3 linked regions of the Homo sapiens genome follow. The protein of the gene in region 2 interacts with the protein of the main gene of each other region in a pairwise test. Each region holds a gene or a part of one and is shown on either strand. Other genes may lie near its edges.

The links.
Region 1: the proteins of DCBLD2 (region 2) and SLC60A2 interact in binary tests that used the Homo sapiens proteins (3 or more experiments, as listed by UniProt).
Region 3: the proteins of DCBLD2 (region 2) and SLC7A14 interact in binary tests that used the Homo sapiens proteins (3 or more experiments, as listed by UniProt).

What each region holds. Positions count from the first base shown.
Region 1 is NC_000006.12:111,262,292-111,269,405, forward strand, and holds part of SLC60A2 (sodium-dependent glucose transporter 1), read left to right. Parts: coding exon 1-134; intron 135-1,538; coding exon 1,539-1,655; intron 1,656-3,584; coding exon 3,585-4,828; 3' UTR 4,829-7,114. UniProt on the Homo sapiens protein: May function as a sodium-dependent glucose transporter. Potential channels for urea in the inner medulla of kidney.
Region 2 is NC_000003.12:98,814,696-98,821,809, forward strand, and holds part of DCBLD2 (discoidin, CUB and LCCL domain-containing protein 2 precursor), read right to left. Parts: intron 5,594-7,114; coding exon 5,553-5,593; intron 4,723-5,552; coding exon 4,507-4,722; intron 3,199-4,506; coding exon 3,074-3,198; intron 1-3,073.
Region 3 is NC_000003.12:170,464,076-170,471,189, forward strand, and holds part of SLC7A14 (solute carrier family 7 member 14), read right to left. Parts: intron 3,328-7,114; exon of another isoform or gene 3,303-3,327; coding exon 2,980-3,302; 3' UTR 1-2,979. UniProt on the Homo sapiens protein: Imports 4-aminobutanoate (GABA) into lysosomes. May act as a GABA sensor that regulates mTORC2-dependent INS signaling and gluconeogenesis. The transport mechanism and substrate selectivity remain to be elucidated.

The sequences.
Region 1 (7,114 bases), on a different chromosome or scaffold from region 2:
AGATTTGGCAACAAACGTGAACCGAAATATCAGTAGTCTGTCTTTCATTTTTGTGGGTCGTGCCTTGGGATATTTGAGTGGCTCTGTGATTGGTGGATTTCTTGTCGATGTCATGAATTATTTTTTACTTTTGGGTAAGTAAATGCTAATTTTAGCTTCTTTATGACTGTCAAGTGAATTTACAAGTTGTCTTTGAAAATATGAAAATACTAGCATGCAGAATGGTTGGCCACTGAAATGGGTAGTGTTTAGGTGTCCTCAATGGCAGTTGAGTTTCCCTGGTACCTGCTTTCATCTTGACAGTTAGAGGGTATCTGTGCTGGGTCCCTCTGGAAATTTAGATTAGCTCTAGAGTGTCTTAGCAATCCTTAGCCTTTCCAACCACTATAATTTAGCTACCACTCCTGGATCACACACTGGTTGTCCAAAAAACTCTGCTTAGAGGGTTTAGGGCAGATTTCCTGGGGTCACCACAGATCAGAATGAGCTCTTTGAACCTGCCCAGGCTACACCCTGGATTGGGAATGAAGAGGGGAAGCGAGGTTGGGTGGACTGATGTAGGCTATGTTTTTGTTCCTGCTGCCCCATGTTGTCGTTGGACAACCCCAGAGTGCTCTGTCTCACCCTGGAAATAGATGGCAAAGCTGCTTTTTTTTTTTGAGACAGGGTCTCCTCTCCCTCTATTGCCCAGGCTGGAGTGCAGTGATGCGATCTCTGCTCACTGCAACCTCCCCCTCCTGGGCTCAAGCGATCCTCCCATCTCAGCCTTCCAATTAACTGGGACCACAGGTGTGAGCCACCATGCCTGATTAATTTTTGTGTTTTTAGTAGAGCCGGGGTTTCACCATGTTGCCCAGGTTGGTCTGGAACTCCTGAGCTCAAAGGATCAGCCTCCCAGAGTATTGGGATTACAGGTGTGAGCCACCACGCCTGGGCTGGCAAAGCTTTTAGCATATACTTTTTTTGAATAAATTGAAATATTTAGAGAAAATTTAGATTAATATGATAAAATTGTTTTGGAAGCAAGAATAATTTGTTATTGTTAAGGAATTAATAAATAATCCCTCTTATTTCCAAAGTGGGTTGAAATAACATATTTCTTGTATTTTCCTCCCTATTTCCCAAACTAATTTATTTAGTAAATTTTATTACAAACTACTCTAGTAATTGCATTTTATTTTTGTCTATTTAATTTTTTGCCTCATGTCTAAAAATTCCTGTTAGGTTCTTAAATGTGAATCATTTAAATTAGTTTTGGCTTGTCTCTTTTGGTATAAAACTTTGCCTTATGGTATAATTTACAGTTTGATTACTAGCAGTGCTTTAAATGTATTTGTGTTATAATTATTTATATTTCATAATCCATAAAGATTATAAAAGATTCAAATGAAATAATCACTTTTAGAAGCAAAAACTCTCATCTACTCATTATCTAATTTAAATTTGACCTGATTTTGCATGTTTGGACATTTATGATATTGACTTGATCCATGACTGCATGGATATTATTTTTTATAGCTGAGTTTCTACCTTCCCAGGAATCTCAATGTCGGCTACCACCGTTGGTCTTTATCTTGTTCCTTTTTGCAAGACAGCAATATTACTCACTGTCATGATGTCTATCTTCGGTGTTTCAATTGGCATTCTGGATACAGGTTAGTGAGCTCTTCAACGTCATCTCTGGGAGTAGGGACTTGCTAGAAGAAGTACAGCAGATGATACTAAACTGTCACTTGCAATGCCCCCTAAAATGACACAGACCTACTGAGTTGGTTGTGAGTCACTCAGAATGAATCACCCTTCTAGCAGCTATTCTTGCCAATTAGGGGGCCTGTTTCTGAGCAGCCAACTCTGAAATGAACTTAAAGAATTTTGTTCTATGAGAGATAATTGATTTACATTGTCCAAACAGGGAAGGGCCCCTGTGTGGGTAATTACAGTGCAGGTGAATAGGCCTTCATCTTGGGGTAGAACTTTATTGCTCTAGTATGGGAGGAATTGGTGGTTTAATAGGTTAAACCAAGTTTGGAACTGTTATTTGGCTGAGAAAGCATAGAAGCAGCAATCCAACTTGACATTTACCCTGACTTCCAAGCCAAGAGAGATCCATAGTGTGGACTAGGCTCTTTCTTTTTCTTTCTGTCCTCAAAGTTCCTGGCCTCCTGCAGTAGATTCTTTCCCGTATCATCATCATGTCTTTTAAAACTTACTAAATAGGCCGGGTGCGGTGGCTCACACCTGTAATCCAGCACTTTGGGAGGCCGAGATGGGTGGATCACGAGGTCAGGAGATCGAGACCATCCTGGCTAACACAATGAAACCTCATCTCTACTAAAAATACAAAAAATTAGCCGGGTGTGGTGGTGGGCGCCTGTAGTCCCAATTACTCGGGAGGCTGAGGCAGGAGAATGGCATGAACCCAGGAGGCGGAGCTTGCAGTGAGCAGAGATCACACCACTGCACTTCAGCCTGGGTGACAGAGTGAGACTCCATCTCAAAAAAAAAAAAAAAACCTACTAAATAACGGCGGGGTGGCTTACGCCTATAATCCTAGCACTTTGGGAGGCTGTGTCGGGCAGATCACCTGAGGTCAGGAGTTCAAGACCAGCCTGACCAATATGGAGAAACCGCGTCTCTACTAAAAATATAAAATGAGCCAGGCATGGTGGCGCGTGCCTGTAATCCCAGCTACTCAGGAGGCTGAGGCTGGAGAATTGCTTGAACCCAGGAGGTGGAGGTTGCAGAGAGCCACGATTGTGCCATTGCACTCCAGCCAGGGTCTCAAAAACAAACAAACAGAAAACCTACTAAATAACATAGATGACATCTGTTTACTCCTAAAACCAGCTTTCTACCCCTCCCTTCCCTGCTTTGCTGTTACGTGATCTGTTGAGGAAATATTTTATTTTACTTTAGGGTTAATTTTGTTATGAAATTATAGGGTAGAATTATATATTTATCTGAAAATATCTGTTGAAAAAAAAGAAGATAGCTCAAGATGTGCTGCTTCTTGCCTTTCTCCTCCTAGACGTTTAGACAGTATAAATTCAGATGCTAAACGGTGTCCTTGTTTCCTCTAATGGGCATACCAGAATCCTGGCTATTCAGGTTCCTGGACGTGTGTTTTGCATCTGTTACATACATAAGTAAGTAATTTTCCTCAAGTGGCTACCAACAGCAAGTACAGAAAGCTTTGGTAATTTGGCTACTATCTGATGATAAAATTTTGCCTTTTAAATATATATTTAAAATATTAATATATAAATATTTCTTCTGCAGTCTGATGTTAGAACTGTATTATAAAAAGCGTCTTGCTAATGTGCTTGGTTCTAGGAGGTAGTAGTCTACTAGACTGTAGAATTCGATTTGTGAGTATGTGATGTTATAATGCTTAGAGTTGTCTGGTGGTAGTGGGTTAGAATTCCTTTCTCAGAATTGATTTAGTTGCAATGTTTGATAATTAGAATATTATAATGCTTGTGCTATGTAAAATAGACTCACCCCCTTTCTGATAAGTGAACTTTTTTTTTTAATAAGTAAGTAACTGTTTAACTTAAATAATTTTTCCCATCTTTCATCGACAGGTGGTAACGTCCTTATCTTGGCTATTTGGGGGGACAAAGGAGCCCCACATATGCAGGCCTTACACTTCTCTTTTGCCTTGGGTGCCTTTTTGGCTCCACTGCTAGCTAAACTGGCTTTGGGTCCGACAGCGTCTGCTGAAAACCACACAGAGTCTGACTTCCATCCTGCACTCAACCAATCATCTGATGCTGACTCAGAAGCTCTGTTTGGAGTACCTAATGATAAGAATTTACTGTGGGCTTATGCTGTTATCGGTACTTACATGTTCTTAGTTTCTGTCATTTTTTTTTGTCTGTTTTTAAAGAATAGCTCAAAGCAAGAAAAAGCAAGAGCATCTGCTGAGACATTTCGAAGAGCAAAATATCACAACGCCCTTCTTTGTCTCCTTTTTCTGTTCTTCTTTTTTTATGTTGGAGCTGAGGTAACATATGGCTCTTATGTTTTCTCATTTGCAACCACCCATGCTGGCATGAAAGAAAGTGAAGCTGCTGGGTTGAACTCCATCTTCTGGGGGACATTTGCAGCCTGCAGGGGCCTGGCAATCTTTTTTGCTACCTGTTTACAGCCTGGAACCATGATTGTGTTGAGCAACATTGGCAGCCTGACTTCATCTTTATTTCTGGTGCTTTTTGACAAGAACCCAATTTGTCTCTGGATAGCAACTTCAGTGTATGGGGCTTCAATGGCAACCACATTTCCGAGTGGTGTTTCTTGGATTGAGCAGTACACGACCATCCATGGGAAATCTGCAGCATTTTTTGTAATTGGTGCTTCCCTGGGAGAAATGGCTATTCCTGCAGTCATTGGAATTCTTCAAGGAAAATACCCTGATTTGCCTGTAGTTCTGTATACCTCTTTGGGAGCATCAATAGCTACTGGTATTTTATTTCCTGTGCTATATAAATTAGCCACTTCACCTCTTGATCGCCAGCGAAAAGAAGACAGAAAGAGTGAGGACCAGAAAGCTCTGCTCTCTAGCTCCGGGCTAAATGAATATGAGGAAGAGAATGAAGAGGAGGATGCAGAAAAATGGAATGAAATGGATTTTGAAATGATTGAAACGAATGATACAATGAGGCATTCTATAATAGAGACATCTAGAAGTAGTCTGACGGAGCCCACAGCTGAAGTCTATAATCAATACCCATCAAATGCACTGGTGTTTGAGTCTTCTCCTTTTAATACTGGCAGTGCCCATGTGAAGCACTTGCCAGAAACCAGGACAAAAGGGACTAACGTTTAGAGAAGATGGATTACTCACTGACATCTTTGAATAACTGCCACTTCTAAGGACGCCATTCAGAGCAGAGCATTAGCAGAATTTCACCATGCTTTGGGGATTAAAATTTTTAGGTCCATATTATAGCAAATGCTAAAAATTTTTGAAATGTTCTGTAATTCCCAGAGTCTTCCATAAATAACCAAATGGTCTCATACACGTACAATAGGATCTTGTTATAACGCTATCATTTGACATGTGACTGATTAGGAAATATTTTATGGTCTCCACCCCTCAGAGCACCCAAAGAAGGCATTGTTTTTGAGAAGGGGGGTATTCTCAGAATGAGACCATGTAGGAGTTGAATTGATTGGTTGAACAAATTATCAGGTATCAATATTTTTCCAGGAAAGTTGAGGAGAATAGTTTCATAAAAGAGAAATGGGCCGGGTGCAGTGGCTAAAGCCTGTAATCCCAGCACTTTGGGAGGCCGAGACGGGCAGATCACGAGGTCAGGAGATCGAGACCATCCTGGCTAACACAGTGAAACCCTGTCTCTACTAAAAATACAAAAAATTAGCCAGGCGTGGTGGCAGGCACCTGTAGTCCCAGCTACTTGGGAGGCTGAGGCAGGAGAATGGCGTGAACCCGGGAGGTGGAGCTTGCAGTGAGCCGAGATCATGCCACACCGTACTCCAGCCTGGGCGACATCTAGACTCCGTCTCAAAAAAGAAATGGAGAGGTATTTTTATTAATTGCTTTACCTTATCTGTAGGGTTGGATCAAAGAATGTAATGACTCATTTGATTTCTAATTTCAATGAAGAGAACACAGAACAGGGCCCAAGGGGTCGGGCTTCAAGCCTTGACTTCTTCTAGCCCTGCACTCTGTCACTTAACGTAGGCCTTGTTTATCTCGCCTCCTGATCTGTGATTCTAGAAATGAAAATGAGATGATTTCCAAATTGGGAATCTGTAAGTTTTAAAGTTTGTGCAAAATGTCTGCTAGAAATTAGTACAAGTGACAGCATGTTCTTCATTTCAAATGAGAAGTGAAACCAAAATGATAAATAGCTTTAAGAATGTGCTAATGATAAATGATTACATGTCAATTTAATGTACTTAATGTTTAATACCTTATTTGAATAATTACCTGAAGAATATATTTTTTAGTACTGCATTTCATTGATTCTAAGTTGCACTTTTTACCCCCATACTGTTAACATATCTGAAATCAGAATGTGTCTTACAATCAGTGATCGTTTAACATTGTGACAAAGTTTAATGGACAGTTTTTTCCCATATGTATATATAAAATAATGTGTTTTACAATCAGTGGCTTAGATTCAGTGAAATACAGTAATTCATTCAATTATGATAGTATCTTTACAGACATTTTAAAAATAAGTTATTTTTATATGCTAATATTCTATGTTCAAGTGGAATTTGGAGACACTATGTTCTAATTTTAAGAACTGTTTCAGTGTTATTAGATTAGTAGTAGGGCTGTAGATGGGGTCTTTCGAGGTCCTTTGCCTACCTCAGTAACAGAGGCTGGGTCTGAGCCTTGCTCGAGATTAGCTCTTCACCAGGTCTGTGTGGTAATCATATCGTAGTTACCGTAGGTCACGCTGCAAGTGTAATTTACAGTGAGGCATAGTCTTTTCCAGTGATTGGAATACTTGTGTCACCGATCCAGGGTTTCTCTTTCCTGAGTCTGAAATACCTGGGAAACCAGTTAGAAGGTGACTGGGTAGCCTAGGAGTCAAGGATCAGAAAGGGTACTTCATATATATGTGGCAGAATTGGTGCAGGTGATCCTTTGAAAAATGACAAGAATTGATGAAATTTTGTTTACTTCCTCCAATTTTTTGCTGAATAACATCTCCTTTCTACCTGATTGGAGTAGGCTTGCTTTCTCTTACTTAATTTCTATAAATTTGCCATTGTTTTGTCTCAAGTAAAATACAGTGTCTTTCTTGACCACTGCCCGCCCATTCACCTTATATGCCTGCCACAGTCTTGGTTCATGTAATAACCTAACAGCTTTGGAGATGGCGGTGGAGAAGTTAATGGTAAAAACCTTCTTGCTCTTTTTATTTTTATTTATTTATTAGGGGTGGGGGATGGTGTCTCACTCTGTCACTCAGGCTGGAGTGCAATGACGTGATCTCAGCTCACTGCAACCTCTGCCTCCCTGGTTCAAGCGATTCTTCTGCCTCGGCCTCCTGAGTAGCTGGGATTACAGGCATGCGCCACCATGCCCAGCTAATTTTTGTGTTTTTAGTAGAGAGGGGGTTTCATCATGTTA
Region 2 (7,114 bases):
AATGAATACACCAATTACCCTTGGGTTGGAGGTGATGAGGGAGCAGATGGACTTACATGAGCGGGAAAAGACTGTTAATTCATACAATTCAATGTGAAGATTTGCATTTCTGACCATAAGAGTAACGGATTAGACTTATTGTTCAGCCCTATACGTACCTGAGAAACTGGATAACAGGCTGCCTTGGGCAATAATGACGGAAAGAAGGGAAACAAATAAGGTGAACCCTGCTATTTATTGCCCCAGTACTGTCTATAGAAGAGTTTCCAGGCCACAGTGCAGGGAGAGAGATCCCTAACAGAGCCTGCCGGTCTCACTGAGTTGCAGAGACAGAGCTGAGAGTGGGAGGCCAATAAGGTAGCTAGAATTTGTAGGCAGAGATTAGGAGAGAAGAGAGCTATAAAGATAGAGTGAGTGAGAGAGAGAGAGAGAGACACTTCTAGAATATATAAGGAGTTATCCCTTAAATCTTCAGCTGCATGTAAAGAAATGACCTATGGCCAGTAAAAGAAACACTGGAATGAGTCAGCAGGACAAGTCTCACAGCTCCGTAGATCTGGGAATTCCTTACACTGCCAAGAGGTAGAACAGAGAAACCTCATAATACATGGGATGCTGCAGTGAGTACTTAGAACAGTATTGTCTCAGTGGGGGAGAAAAATAAGAAAACTGAAGGCTGTCCAGGTCCTGCCTAATGAAGTTTAAAAGCAAGCCTTGAAAATATCACATTGTTTCCAGTAGCTTAACTACATTCCAGAATAAAGCTCAAAAATACTTAAGGGAATATTAATAACAAAAAACCCCAGCACCAAACAATGTAACACAATGTCTGGCATCCAATAAAAAAAATTCGGGCAGGTAAAATATGATCCATAATATCAATCAACATAAAAAGACCCATATATGACATAGGATAACATTAGCAGATGAGGATATTAAAAGAGCTATTATATATGCTCCATGTTCCAGAGATAGAGAAAAGCATGAGCATGTAAAGACACACTGGAGACATCTTAAAACTCCCAAACTGAACATCTAGAGATAAAAAATACAGTATCAGAGATAAAAATACATTGGATGGGATTAACAGATTAGACATTTCAGAAGAATAGATTAGTGAACTTGAAGACAAAACAGAAAACTTTCAAACTAAAATACAAAGAGAAAAAGACTGAAAAAAATAAAGAACGGAGCATTGGTGAATGGTAAGATACCTTCAAGGGTCATAATATTCATAAAATTAGAATTGGGGAAGGGAAATATTTGAAAAAAAAAGAACTACAATTTTCTAAATTTGATGCAAATCATAACCTACAGATCCAAAAACCTCAAAGAACCCCACGCAAAAAAAAAAGAAGAAAAATATAAAAAAGCCACATCAATCAAACTGCTTAAAACAAATGATAAAAAGAAAACCTTAAAAGGAGCCACAGAAAAAAAGACATATCACATATTGAGGAACAGAAATAATAGCAGAATTCTTGTCAAAAACAATGCAAGCCAGCAAACAGCAGACAACGTATTTCAATTATTGAAAGGAAAAACCAAAAAAAAAAAAAAACCAAAAAACCACTGATCAACCCAGATTTCTACACTTAGAGAAATTACCTTTCAAAAATGAATGCAACATAGAATCTTTTTCAGAAATATCATTTAATGTTTAGAAGTTTTTATAGTATAAGCCTGAACAATTCTTAACATTCCAAAAATTTAGCTATATTCCACAAGCAAAATAAATGTGATACAAATGAATATGGATGTGGCAGGAGTAAAGAGTAGTCAAGTTTAGGGGCATGAGGTAGAAGATATGTATGGAGACAGTATTGTTATTTTCTTTAACAGGGAGAGGCTCACCAAAGATGAAGTTCATGTGACGCCAAGTAGAAGAGAAGAAAGAGGCCTTGAATAAAAGCAGAGGAGTTAAGATGCATATGAAAGATAATGAGCCCCTGGAGGTTTTTGAACAAAGAGATGAGAAAAGTAGTAATTGAAGACTTTTTAGCAAATCATACATGATAAAAAACAAAAATATATAATCAAAATCAAACTCATAGGAAAGTTTGAAAAAATGTCATCATTGTTTCAGTTCTTTTTTTTCCACTTTGAGACAGAGTCTCCCTCTGTCGCCCAGGCTGGATTGCAGTGGAGTGATCACAGCTCACTGCAGCCTCAACCTCCTGGGTTCAGGTGATTCTCCCACCTCAGCCTCCCAAGAAACTGGGACTACAGGCATGCGCCACCATGCCTGGCTAATTTTCTGTATTTTTAGTGGAGATGGCGTGTTGCCATGTTGCCCAGGCTGGTTTCAAACTCCTGAGCTCAAGCAATCCCAAAGTGCTGTGATTACAGGAGTGAGCCATCATGCCCAGCCCCATAGTTTTGGTACTGATGGGAGACATCTATCTTCCTTAGGCACAAGGACTTCTCCATTTAAAGATCAAAGGGATACACATCTGAATAAGACCCATCTCTGCCTGCTCCCCACCCCTTATCATTTCCTCTGGCTCATTCCAGCATCTTCATAAATTGTTGCTAACTAAAACAAAGATTCCATAATTAGATGCTAGAGCAATTCTTCATGTAAGAAAAAACAGAAGTTTCCCAAGATGAAAGTTGGTGAGATGATCTTCAGATGAATTTTCATCTCTAATATCCTATAATTTAATGCACGTTGGTTTTCAGCTTTTTTCTTTTTTTACCTCTTGCCTACAGAGTAGAAATCTGGGAACAAAGGCTCTCCATCATCTGGTGAATTGAAAAAAGCTTCATAAAAATAAGAAATTACAAGGTCCCTTTTAGACTTTCTTAATAAAGTGTCTAAACAATTCAATTAAAAATGCAATGACAAAAATCAGAAAAGTACTCACCGTTACAATCACCAAAAGGAACCTAGAACTACTGAGAATTTTCTAAAGTCAGTAGAGTAAGGCCAATAACACTACCTAAAATAACCACAAGAGGGTAGTATAAGACATTCTAAACTTCTACATCTCTTTTATACAGGAGAGCTCTGTGACTTGGCAACCACCCATTTAAAAAATGTTTTTTAAAAATACCTTGGTAATCATTTTACCTTATCTTGCTCCACACCAGGCTCTCTGTACACAGTCCATTTCTGCCCATCATCACTGTACAGGATTCTGTAGGCAGACACATAGTAATTGTGCTCCACCATGGTGGATCCAGTGGTTATAATGCCTGGGGAATGAAGAGTTGCTTTCATTAATGCACATGGTCTGATTCCCTAAGTTTGTTCAGCATCAAAGTATAAACACTTGAAATGCACAGCTCGAACATTTCTAATTATGGCTCATTTCCATATCCAAGTGCACGTTTTTGTCATAACAATTACTAAATCCTTGGCCTTATTCCCTTGGAGAGAGAGGAAGGATTATGGGTGGGCATTAATTAAGTAAAGAACTATTCTGTTTTGGTGTCTTGTGTTTATAACGTCGTAAAATAGATTTTGACTACTGGGTAAGATGACTTCCTGGGAATGAACAGATTAAAGATGATTATTGGTATTATTTACAGTACCAAAACAAAATAAATATTTTAACAAAATTAAACCAATCCCAACCAATTATTCCGACCATTTGCTAAGTTCCCCTAAATTAAATTTATACTCTCCACATGTGGAAAATTAATGATCTCATCATTTAAAATGGACTCCTTTAACATAAATTTCTCTTAATGACTGTAGGAGACCGTTATTTTAGATGTCTCAAGACCACTTTACTGAAACACTACCTTAAAAAAAGAGTCTCATTACAATGGAAACAAAAAGCTATTACGAATTAAATACTGTGATGGTTAATACTGAGTGTCAACTTGATTGAAGGATGAAAAGTATTGTTCCCAGGTGTGTCTGTGAGGGTGTTGCTAGAGGAGATTAACATTTGAGTCAGTGGACTAGGACACGCAGACCCACCCTCAATCTGGGTCGGCACCATTTAATCTGCATCAGCACGGCCAGAATAAAAACAGGCAGAAGAAAATGTGAAAAGACTAAACTGGCTTAAGTCTCCCAGCCTACATCTTTCTCCCATGCTGGATGCTTCCTGCCCTTGAACATCAGACTCCAAGTTCTTAGCTTTGGGACTTCTGGACCTTTGACCATAGACTAAAAGCTGCACTGTTGGCTTCCCTACTTTTGAGGTTTTGGGACTCGGAATGGCTTCCTTGCTCCTCAGCTTGCAGATGGCCTACTGTGGGACTTCACTTTGTGATCATGTGAGTCGATACACCTTAATAAACTCCCCTTTATATATACATCTGTCCTATCAGTTGTGTCCTTTTAGAGAACCCTGACCAACACAAATAACTCCTTTTCTCTGCCATGTTTCATAAAATGTGTCTCTAGTAATATTAACATCAGTGAAGAAAATATAAAACCATATAATTACAATTTTAATGCCTTAATTTTCTCTGAAAATCTTAGATGTTACTAGTTTTTCAAATAAAATAAGTGTTACAAATTGCTTTAGAAAATTTTTGTCTCTTAACCTGTTATTTTCTTTTCCTTATTCAAATCTATTTGTAACCACTGGTATTCATCAGTGGCAAAAGCAGCCCAAGGCGGTCCAGGTTTTTTCAGCCTGGCTTTTTTGGGTTTCCAACTGTTCTCTTGCCCTGTGTGGTCAGTCCACTCCAGCACAGATGATGCTGTTATTTGAGGATCCGCGATCACACCAGACTCCATCCCCAGTGTTCCATAACATCCTGAAACAAAGAAAAGACTAAATTTGGTTTCCAGGTATAATTTCAAAATGCATGTAGACCTGCTCACTGAAAACTTTCTATTCCATCTTTAATTAACATACACTACACTAATAATACACTGTAACAGAGAAATTTCAAAACTAGGCAAGTGTTTCTTGGGCATATGTCTTTGTGTATCATTAGGAAACCTACAAACATGCTCATTTATAAGCATGACTGTTAGTTTAATGGAGATACATTATCTTCTCCCTGGGACACTCTTCCCAAATAACTGAGTAACTCACTCCTTTACCTCCTTCAGGTTTTTGGCCTATGTTGCATTCTCCCTGAGGTCTTCCCTGGGAGGAAGGCCCTTCCCAACTTCAATCCAGTCCTCCTTATTTTCCTACATCTTTTATCATATTGTAAACAGTACATTATAAACAGAAATTTATTCATTGCTTATCATCAATCTCTCACTACTAGAATGTAAGCTCCAGGAAGGCAGGAGTTTGTTCACTTTACTCTATCACTCGAACCAGAGCAATGCCTGGCACATAAAGAGAAGGCACTCAGTAAGTATTTTCTGTTGAACGAATTGATTACTTCTTCAGACAAGTTCAAAAGTCATCTTTCTTAAGGAACCTTCCTTGCTTACATGACCATTTCTCTATAAATATAAAACTTTCAATTTGCTCTATTCATTATATTATTAGATAACTATCTTACCTCATAGTGTTATTAAGACAACTACGTGAGAAAGTACAATAAATCAGCAACTGACACAGTGCCTAACAGTGTTCAAAAAATATTATATAAATAAAAAATTATAAAGTCCATAAAAGGCTTACCACTTGTCTTAAATGTAAAAAGACTTGTAGATAAGTGTCCCCTGAAAGAGAGAAGGGTTTTTTTTGGTGATACTCACATAACACATGATGCCCCATATTTAGTGAAACATTTTCTTTTGATTTGGTTCCCCCCACCCAATAAAAGAACCAAGAAGACTGTGTGGCTAAAAATTAGACAACTAATATTGTTCCTAGGAAAAAAGTCTCATTTCTAAGCAGGACAACTTCTGAAATCAGCATAAACAGCTTTCTCTACAAGTATCTAGCACCCAGTTTCATATGTGATTGTGCAAAAGTTCTCTATGTAATCTTTAATATGTACTTCTTTTTCATATGTATTTACTCATTGTTTACTGTCAATCTCTCACTACTTTATTTCATGAAATAAATGGATTCTTAACACTTTTCTGTGGCAAATGCTTTCGATGAAAATACACTAAAAGGTCTAATTCTCAGAGAATGAGGCTCAAGTTTTTTCGGATAAACATGAGAAAAGTTGGGTACTAATAGATTTCTTTTTCTTTTTTTTTTTTTTTTTAGGAGAAATCAACATCTCATGGAAGAAGTTTCAGTGTACACTCCTGCCTTTAGTCCAACATACAAACCATTACAAGAGGATGCAATTTATCCCTGTTTTCTTTTTTAAAGTATGAAAGAGAGAATTCACAAACACTAAATCTTTCTAAAGGTATAACATGGTAAAGGAATGAAAGGGTCTGCATAAAATAATCTAGAAAAAAAAAAAAAAAAAGAAGGGAAGGTAGTTGAATCTATACCAGGGATGGGCAAATGACTGCCCATGCATGGCCTGTTTTGTATGGGCCGTGAGTTAAGAATAAAGAGCTATAAATAAAACAAAAAAAGAATAAGCTGCAGCGACATGTGGCCTGTAAAGCCTAAAATATTTATTAGCTGGATCTTTACAGAACAAATCTGCTGAATCCTGTTGTATACCAATCTGGATATGGATGATGCTTGTGTCTTCTGAATGAAAATTGGCCTAGGACCTCTGAAGAAAAGCTGGTTTCAATTAGGCTTAGTGTTGTCTGAAAGACTGAGCAGATCTAAGAGACAAGATTTATAAAAACAGATTGCTAACACTGCATTTCTATTTAATGTTTCAATTTCTCTTGCTTTTGATGCCTACCCTACGTTTTATAAAACAGTAGAACACTATAGTTACCATGAAAATACATCTTCAAAATATTCTCTTAGAATGAAAGGAAGATTCACAATAATGCTTATGATGTAACACTTTATGTCAAACTTAAATTTATATTTAAAGTATTTCAATTATCTTGAATCCCCATGTGCTATAAGGAACACAGTAGTTAAGCCTTTCAATCTGTAAAATAAATAAGGATTTGGCAACAAACTTCTAGACTCTTATGTAGACTTTTTTTTAACACTTAGAAAAGACAGAAGAAACACATTACTCTTCCAAATGACTACATTTTTGAAGAACAATAAGCTAAAGTAGTACAACACCACCTGTACTCTTCAAAATATGCAGACACTGGCTGGGCACGGTGGGTCACGCCTGTAATCCCAGCACTTTCGGT
Region 3 (7,114 bases), about 72 Mb from region 2:
AGTTTTGTCTTATCCTTTCTGTTTCTATTTTTGTTTGCTCTGAGTTCCTCACTTAATTTTTGTTTTGTATTATATATATTTTAGTAGCTGCCTCAAATCCTTTTGAAATGAAGCAGAGTACCAATAAATAAGTAGAATAAAATCTGAAGAAAATCAAGTAATTGGCTCCAAACCACAAATCCACACAATGAAATCTCACTCGGAGAGCTTTTGCTATTCAGAATTCAATAAAATGTAGGTCTTCCTTGGACTCCCTTCAAGGGGCAAAGTTTCTAAGATAATTATAAGGTGATCTTACTTTTAATGTGATCCCACACATACATCGTTTAGAAACCTGTTAAGAAAATAGTAATATTGTCATTGTAGTGATTGATGGTATTTGAAAACTGCATTGTAAAATCTGGGACTGTTCACAGAAGCAGGTAAACCTGAGGACAAACATGTCTATGTACCTGAAAATACTTTTTCTATCTTAGTGATTTTTTTTTTAAAACTAAGGTTGCTAGGGAGGTGATTTATCAACTTTAGAAAAATAAAGGGAGCTAAGCTTAAAATATACTAATATACTATGTGGGAAAAATGGCTCCTGAAATGAGAGTGCTTAATAGAATCTGCATGAAGTCAACAGCAATGGTGTTAACCAAAGCATACATTTTCCATTCCCATCCTATAGAAATTGCATTCATCTGCCACCAGGCTATTGTTACTTTAATACTTAAACCTCACTAGTAAAAGGAAGCTCTTTCACCCACGTTAAGATTTTGCCATTTTGCACTCCTATTTCTCTATTCTCATGCTTAATGAATACAACCCCTCCTCATCTATCTAGATATGTATCAAGCTTAACAGATTCTATTTACACCAGGCAGATTTGTTGAGTCCTATAGCCAATTCAAAACTTTGTTTTCAAAAGATGACTGATAATTAGTTTATAATTAATTCCTAATGCTGTATTTCACAGAGTAGGCACTGTATCTTTATGGTTAACTCTAGGGAAGAGAAAACATAGCATTGTCAAGCATGATATTAAAATGACAAAATGACCTCAGGAAACCAGAGTTCTAAACAATGACTACAGAAGAATAAAAAATATCTAGAAAATTGCAGTTATTTTAGTTTAATGGTATACATTGGCTATGATTACGATATGTAATTTATTTAAAGCATATTTTTTAAAAACTAGTTTCAATTCATCTTTATATGTATGTTAAAACCCAGTGCATCAGCCTGGAGACTTGTCAAGTTTGTTGTTTTATCTGCATTTACCAGGCTCCAGTGCTGCTCATCCATGGACTGTAGCCCCCAAGGGCAAGTGCCATGCTTCTATTCATTCCTGTCACTTAGCATTGGGTCTATTCTCAACCAGTGTTAGTTGAATGAAAAAATGGACTTTTACCTCCTTGCCATAATCCTAAAGCATGCCAAGATGGCATGAGCCTCAGCCTTTCAGAAAGAACAGACTTGAGTGCTAGCGAATATGTTCTGGAAAACGTTTGGCATACTGATACATCCAGGAGAGAAAGGACAAGGAATTTCTTCTTTTGTCCCTCTTTCAGGAAATCCTCACAGAGATTTTATTAATAGCTTGATTAATTTTAATAGCTTGGTTAATTCTATGATAGCTTGATTCAAATTGTGCCTTCACATACATTTGTACGTATCTCAGTGCAGCCACAGGAATTCTTGTAACCCAAGAGTAGAATTTATATTGTAGCCCATGTGTGTTTTTTTCCTTTGCAAATTCTCTCATCTATTCTATTTCTGAGAAAATTCTTTTAATAGCCCCTTTTATGGCCCAAATTTACATCTTACCAGGTAGATATTTCTCTGGGCTTCAGTGAAACTACTCTGGGAAATAACAGGAAAAAAAAATACACCTCTGAAAGTGAGCTAGCCCCAAGGAATAAGGTTCAGAAGTGAAATGTGATCTCATGGAATGCAACTACCTAAGTCGCTATACTTCAGCCTATTTTGTTTTCAGAGTAGCACACACCAATCAAGTGGTTGCCTATCTCAAAAACTTTAGAATTTATAATTTTAGAAATATGAAAGAGAATTTGCAATGTGATCTCAGTGGCTGGCTCACTTCTCCTTGTAAAAATTTTTATCTGATTATAAAACAAACAACCTACTTTTTCAAGGCATATCAGTGCCATGAAATCATGCTCCACCTTTGCCCGCTTTCATCATATCACCAGGAGCTGCAGTCTGATATAAGAGAGGCCATGACAGAGAGTTAATTTCTGCCAATGCCCTTCTGGCTTTTACCGCAAGATATGGTTATTTAATTTTCTTCTGGGCATTTACATAGAGCTTTGATGGTGCTTCTTACCATATCACTGGGTCTGCCTGACTGCTTTATGGTGAATCTGAAACCATTGGGAAAATGGTCCAGAGTCCCTGAACTTTGCTGGATCCTAAAATTATAGTTTGGAAGCTGTGAGAATGTTGGTGAATAAAAAGAAGCATGTGTCTTTTCCATGAATTAATTTTGGGTGAGATTGCAGGATAAAATGATGCTTGCTCAGGAAGTGCCAATGCCCATCTACCCACCCTGACCTCGGGGAGCAGCACTCAGCCTGACATGCCAAGAACAGAGCTTTGTCCCCATGTCTCAGGTGACTGAAATTCTGCCTTCTGCCCAGAGCCCCTGCTTGGGCTTCAACCAGCAAAGCAAAGGCCTAGGAAACATTTGGTACCATCAGCTCTGGTGGTTGCACCTAAGATGGAATTTCATATAGCCTCTTGTTTATTTATTTATTTTATTTAACAAGGCGACCAGTTAGGGGACCCAGGTTAAGCCCTTCAACAGAACTATCCTGAAGAGCAAAAGTAGCAAATGACAGGCTATGACTAGGGATTGAATTTGGGGAAGGCTGGATTTGTGAAATGAGAGCCAAAAAAGTTTTCACCTTCTAGCCCACAGGTTAAGTTACTGAAAATCAGTCATCACCATTTCTACCCACTTGTGTGTTTCTCCTACTCTGGAGAGTAATCTAACTCATCATTTGCAATCAGGGCCTCTGAGTTCTGTTTGTGTTTGCTTTTGCTCTTCGCTTTGCTACTTGTCCGGCCGTTTGCCTTCGCATCTGACATCTGTTGGTAATAGAAGCCTTTGTCTTCAGTGGGCCCGCCCCAGTCCTCCTGGCTCTCGCCCTCTGTGGCGTAGGAGAAACCCTCCTCCACTGAGAAGGGGTCATCCACGTCGTAGCGTTGGTACGTGCTTTGGTGCAGGGCCTCTTCTCGAGCGCTGATTTCCAGGGTGCTGTTCCAGATGCCATATCCAAAATAAATGAGCAGACCTGTGGGGCGAGGGGAAAGGTACAGGTGAATAAGCAATTGCTTTGGGATCCTGGGACTAGCAGAGAGATCACCTTCAGTGATGAAATCAAAGCTGGCGGGGTGGGGGGCGGTGGGGGCGGGGATGTATTTTCTTTGCTTTATGTGGTGTTTTGAAAATACTTGAATTAGATGCCTTTTAAAAATTGGGAGATCTTGCGTTAAGTAACCCATATTTACAGATTTTCCTAGAAAAGTCAAAAGGTCTGACAACACTGCATCCACATTTCTACATGGTGATTTTTGGCTGGTGTTGAGAACTGGCTGCCTCTTTAGACAGGATACAGGGTCTCTAGGTTACCTCAGTCCCCACCTCCCATGCTGACGTCGGGCTCATTACACTCATATAGCTGCCAGCCAGGAATTTGCATTTTCTACCCTGGGTGAACTATTTATGGATCAGCAACAGTTTATTCCCAACGTTCTTATAAGATTTGATTATTCTCTGCCTCCAGTTAGGGACTCTATCTCATGTTTCACCTCTTAGCAGCATGCATATATTATCCTGTGATTTACCTTGACATTTTACACTCACTAAAGGCGTGATATATCATGGCCACTCCAAGCTGCCTGCTTTCTTCTGTGTGCTCTCAGAGTGTCTAGTGCATGCTACTATTATGTCCCTTAGAACATCTGTTGTGTGATTATCTGCACAGGGTCGTAGACTCTGCAGAAAATTGGCACTTAATGTTTGTTGAATGAATGGGTGAGAACTCCTGATAAGCGTGAAATGTCCAGTGCAACCTCTGTGTTGATGTCATCCCAATCAAAGGAAAGAAACTTGCCCCCCTCGTTAATATGTAGCATTCATATATGCTAATGTTTCATTTCTATGATTTAAAAAACATGCATAAAAGTCATTTATGAGTACCCATTTTCTTTTTCTTTTCTTTTTTTTTTTGAGACAGGGTCTCACTCTGTTGTCCAGGCTGGAGTGCAGTGGCATGATCTCGGCTCACTGCAGTCTCTGCCTCATGGGCTCAAGCGATTCTCCTGCCTTGGCCTCTCGAGTAGTTGGGACCACAGGCATGTGCCACCACGCCCAGCTAATTTTTGTATTTTTGAGAGATGGAGTTTCACCATGTTGCCCAGGCTGGTCTCAAATTCTTGGACTCAAGTGATCCGCCTGCTTCCACTTCCCAATGTGTTGGGATTACAGGCATGAGCCATCAGTCCTGGCCTGAGTCCCCATTTTCTATCTTGAATAGACTGTGAAGGTTCAGGGCCTGGAAGTCTGGGAACCATAACCTTGGAGTCCATAGAACATGATAAGTAAGACTGTGGGCTCTGTGTTCAAATCCTGCCTTCATCACTGTTAGCTGTGTAACCCTGGTCCCATTACTTAGCCTCTCTGTTCCTCAGCATTCTCTGTAAAACGATGAGAGCTATAGCAACCCTCTTAACATGGGAGTGCTTGAGGATGAAATGAGGTAAGTGGTGGTTCTCAACCCTGGCTGCACTTGAAAGTCACCTGGGGGTGTTTTTTGAACCACTCTGATACCCTAGCCCCATCCTGGAGATTCTGATTTAATTAGTCTGCAGTATAACCCAAGCATAGGTATGTTTTTAAAACTCCACAGGTGATTCCAATGGTCAGAGTGTCCCTGAGATAATGAACTGTGCCTGATGGGCACAGTGTTCCACTGCCCACTCAGCCCACACTATGGCCTAGGCACTGGGGTCCATACAGTATGCAACCTCCTTCCCGGGCCCTAACATCCTCCTCTGAGTAGCACCAGTCTCTTTGACTTTGCTAACCCTGCAGGCTTCTGCTGGGCTGGTTTGCTTAGAACCGCAAGTCAAGCCTGCTTTGCTGCTGTGGTGCTTGAGAAATCTTGCTCTCTTTTGAATTTGAAGTGTGCCTTTTTAAGCTTGGATTTCTCCCTCCTTGTCTCAAATGACTTTGTCCCCCCTCCCTCCCACACTCCCCAGTGAAATCAACTTTCCAGGAGCCAAAGTAAGCACAGATTTATAGTCCTAATTGGTAATAAATCCTAGAGTTAATTATTTGCAGATGTAGCTATTAGTGCTCAAATAATGATTCATCTTTTAAAAGCAGGGTATTTACTCTTTCTTTTCTGTAGGTGGGGGGTGGCTATGGGGGATGGTTATTATCCTTGTGTAGAACAGGGCATCACATTAAGGCCTCTTCTAAGAGTGCCAGTGTGCTGGTTCTTGGAGAATGCCTCTGTCTGAAGCATGTTTGGCATCTGAGAATGGATTTCAGGCGACCAGGCAGGACCTGTGCACACCTCCTTTTGCACTGCTTTGCTTTTTTGCCATCTTTTCTTCTAGACACCCAGGCAGATGCCAAATATTGCCTCCTACTCCTGCTTGGTACCTATTATGCCAATTCTTTCCTTTCTGATGCCCTTCTCTGACTTTGCTTATAGACGACTCATTTCCCTACTGAACTTAATACCATCTTTTTCTTTTCCCTTTGCCCCAAACGTCTCTCCTCTGCCACCACAAAGGTCATTGTTCAGTCACTGGTTTGACATCACTCATCACTGGTTTGTCGATTCCAACAGACCTGTCCCTGCCCCCACAAGGTATTTTGGGTGTCAGATAGATTCATATTATGGGAATTCTCTAAAAACCTTGAGTCATAGATATTTAGAGCTGGAAAAGATGCTATAGATCACCTATGCATTCTAAAACCTTCATTTTACAGAAGAAGAAACAGAGGCTGGGAAAGAATAAGTGACTTGCCTGGGTCTGAGAAGGAGAGGAACCAGCTTTATACATGGAGGGAGAGAAGTCTCTTGCGTGTCTAGTCCTTCACACCTCCTCTCCCCTCCCCCAGGCTGGTTTACAGACTATGCCCACTGCAGTAAACATGTGATAAGAGGTTTACATGTGTTCTTTGGGAGTGGCCAGGCCTGGAAGGAACATGTGTGTGTGTGTGTGTGTGTGTGTGTGTGTATGTGTGTGTGTCTGTGTCTGCGCGCTCTCACATATTGACTGTGGTTACTTTTTACTTTGTGAAGACAATCCATGGAAACTTGCCACATAAATATTTATGGGTCTTTTCATGTTTGCCCTGAACCCCCTGGAGTTTCAAAGGTGTATCACTCTGTCTTCAAAAATGCATTTCAAATGTGAGTACTGTGAAACAAGAAACGACCGTGTGCATGCAGCCTGGTAGAGTAAATAGTAGATGCAAAGCCGTTCCCCTAGGGCTTGGCATTCTGTGTGTCTATCTTTCTTGCTGGCCCTTGAGTCAATTCAGGAAAAGTGGTGTGAAACTGAGAAGGATTGGAGAAAAGAAAAATGGAGGGGGACAAAGAAACAGAGAGGAACAGATGAAGGGAGGGAGGGAGGGAGAGAGAGAGAAGAGAAGAGAAACGTATTACCATCTGTCCCACATAAACAAGGGCTTTGTGTCGGAGGAGTAAACAGAGCTGCTCCACGCCTCCTGTGTGGAAGCAGGGTGTTTTGTTTCTGCTCCTTTTTTTAGTTGGCTTAGAGAATGAAGCATGAGGTAGTTTCTGAAAAATCTGTAGGGGTTCTGGGAATCCTGAATCATCTAAACTAAACTTCACAAAGCATTTCTGTGTGCTGGGTTAGGATAATGATGGATGGTTGATGTTGCACCTTTGTCCCAAAGAGCTCAAAATGTTACACAAACAGTATCTTGTTTTGTTTAGACTCCCTTTAACCTGTCTGGGAAGGGGTGTGTGTGTGTGTGTGTGTGTGTGTGTGTGAGTGATTATGTGCATTGCACACTTCACAGACAGGACAACAGGACAGTGGGCACAGAAAACATAAGGGA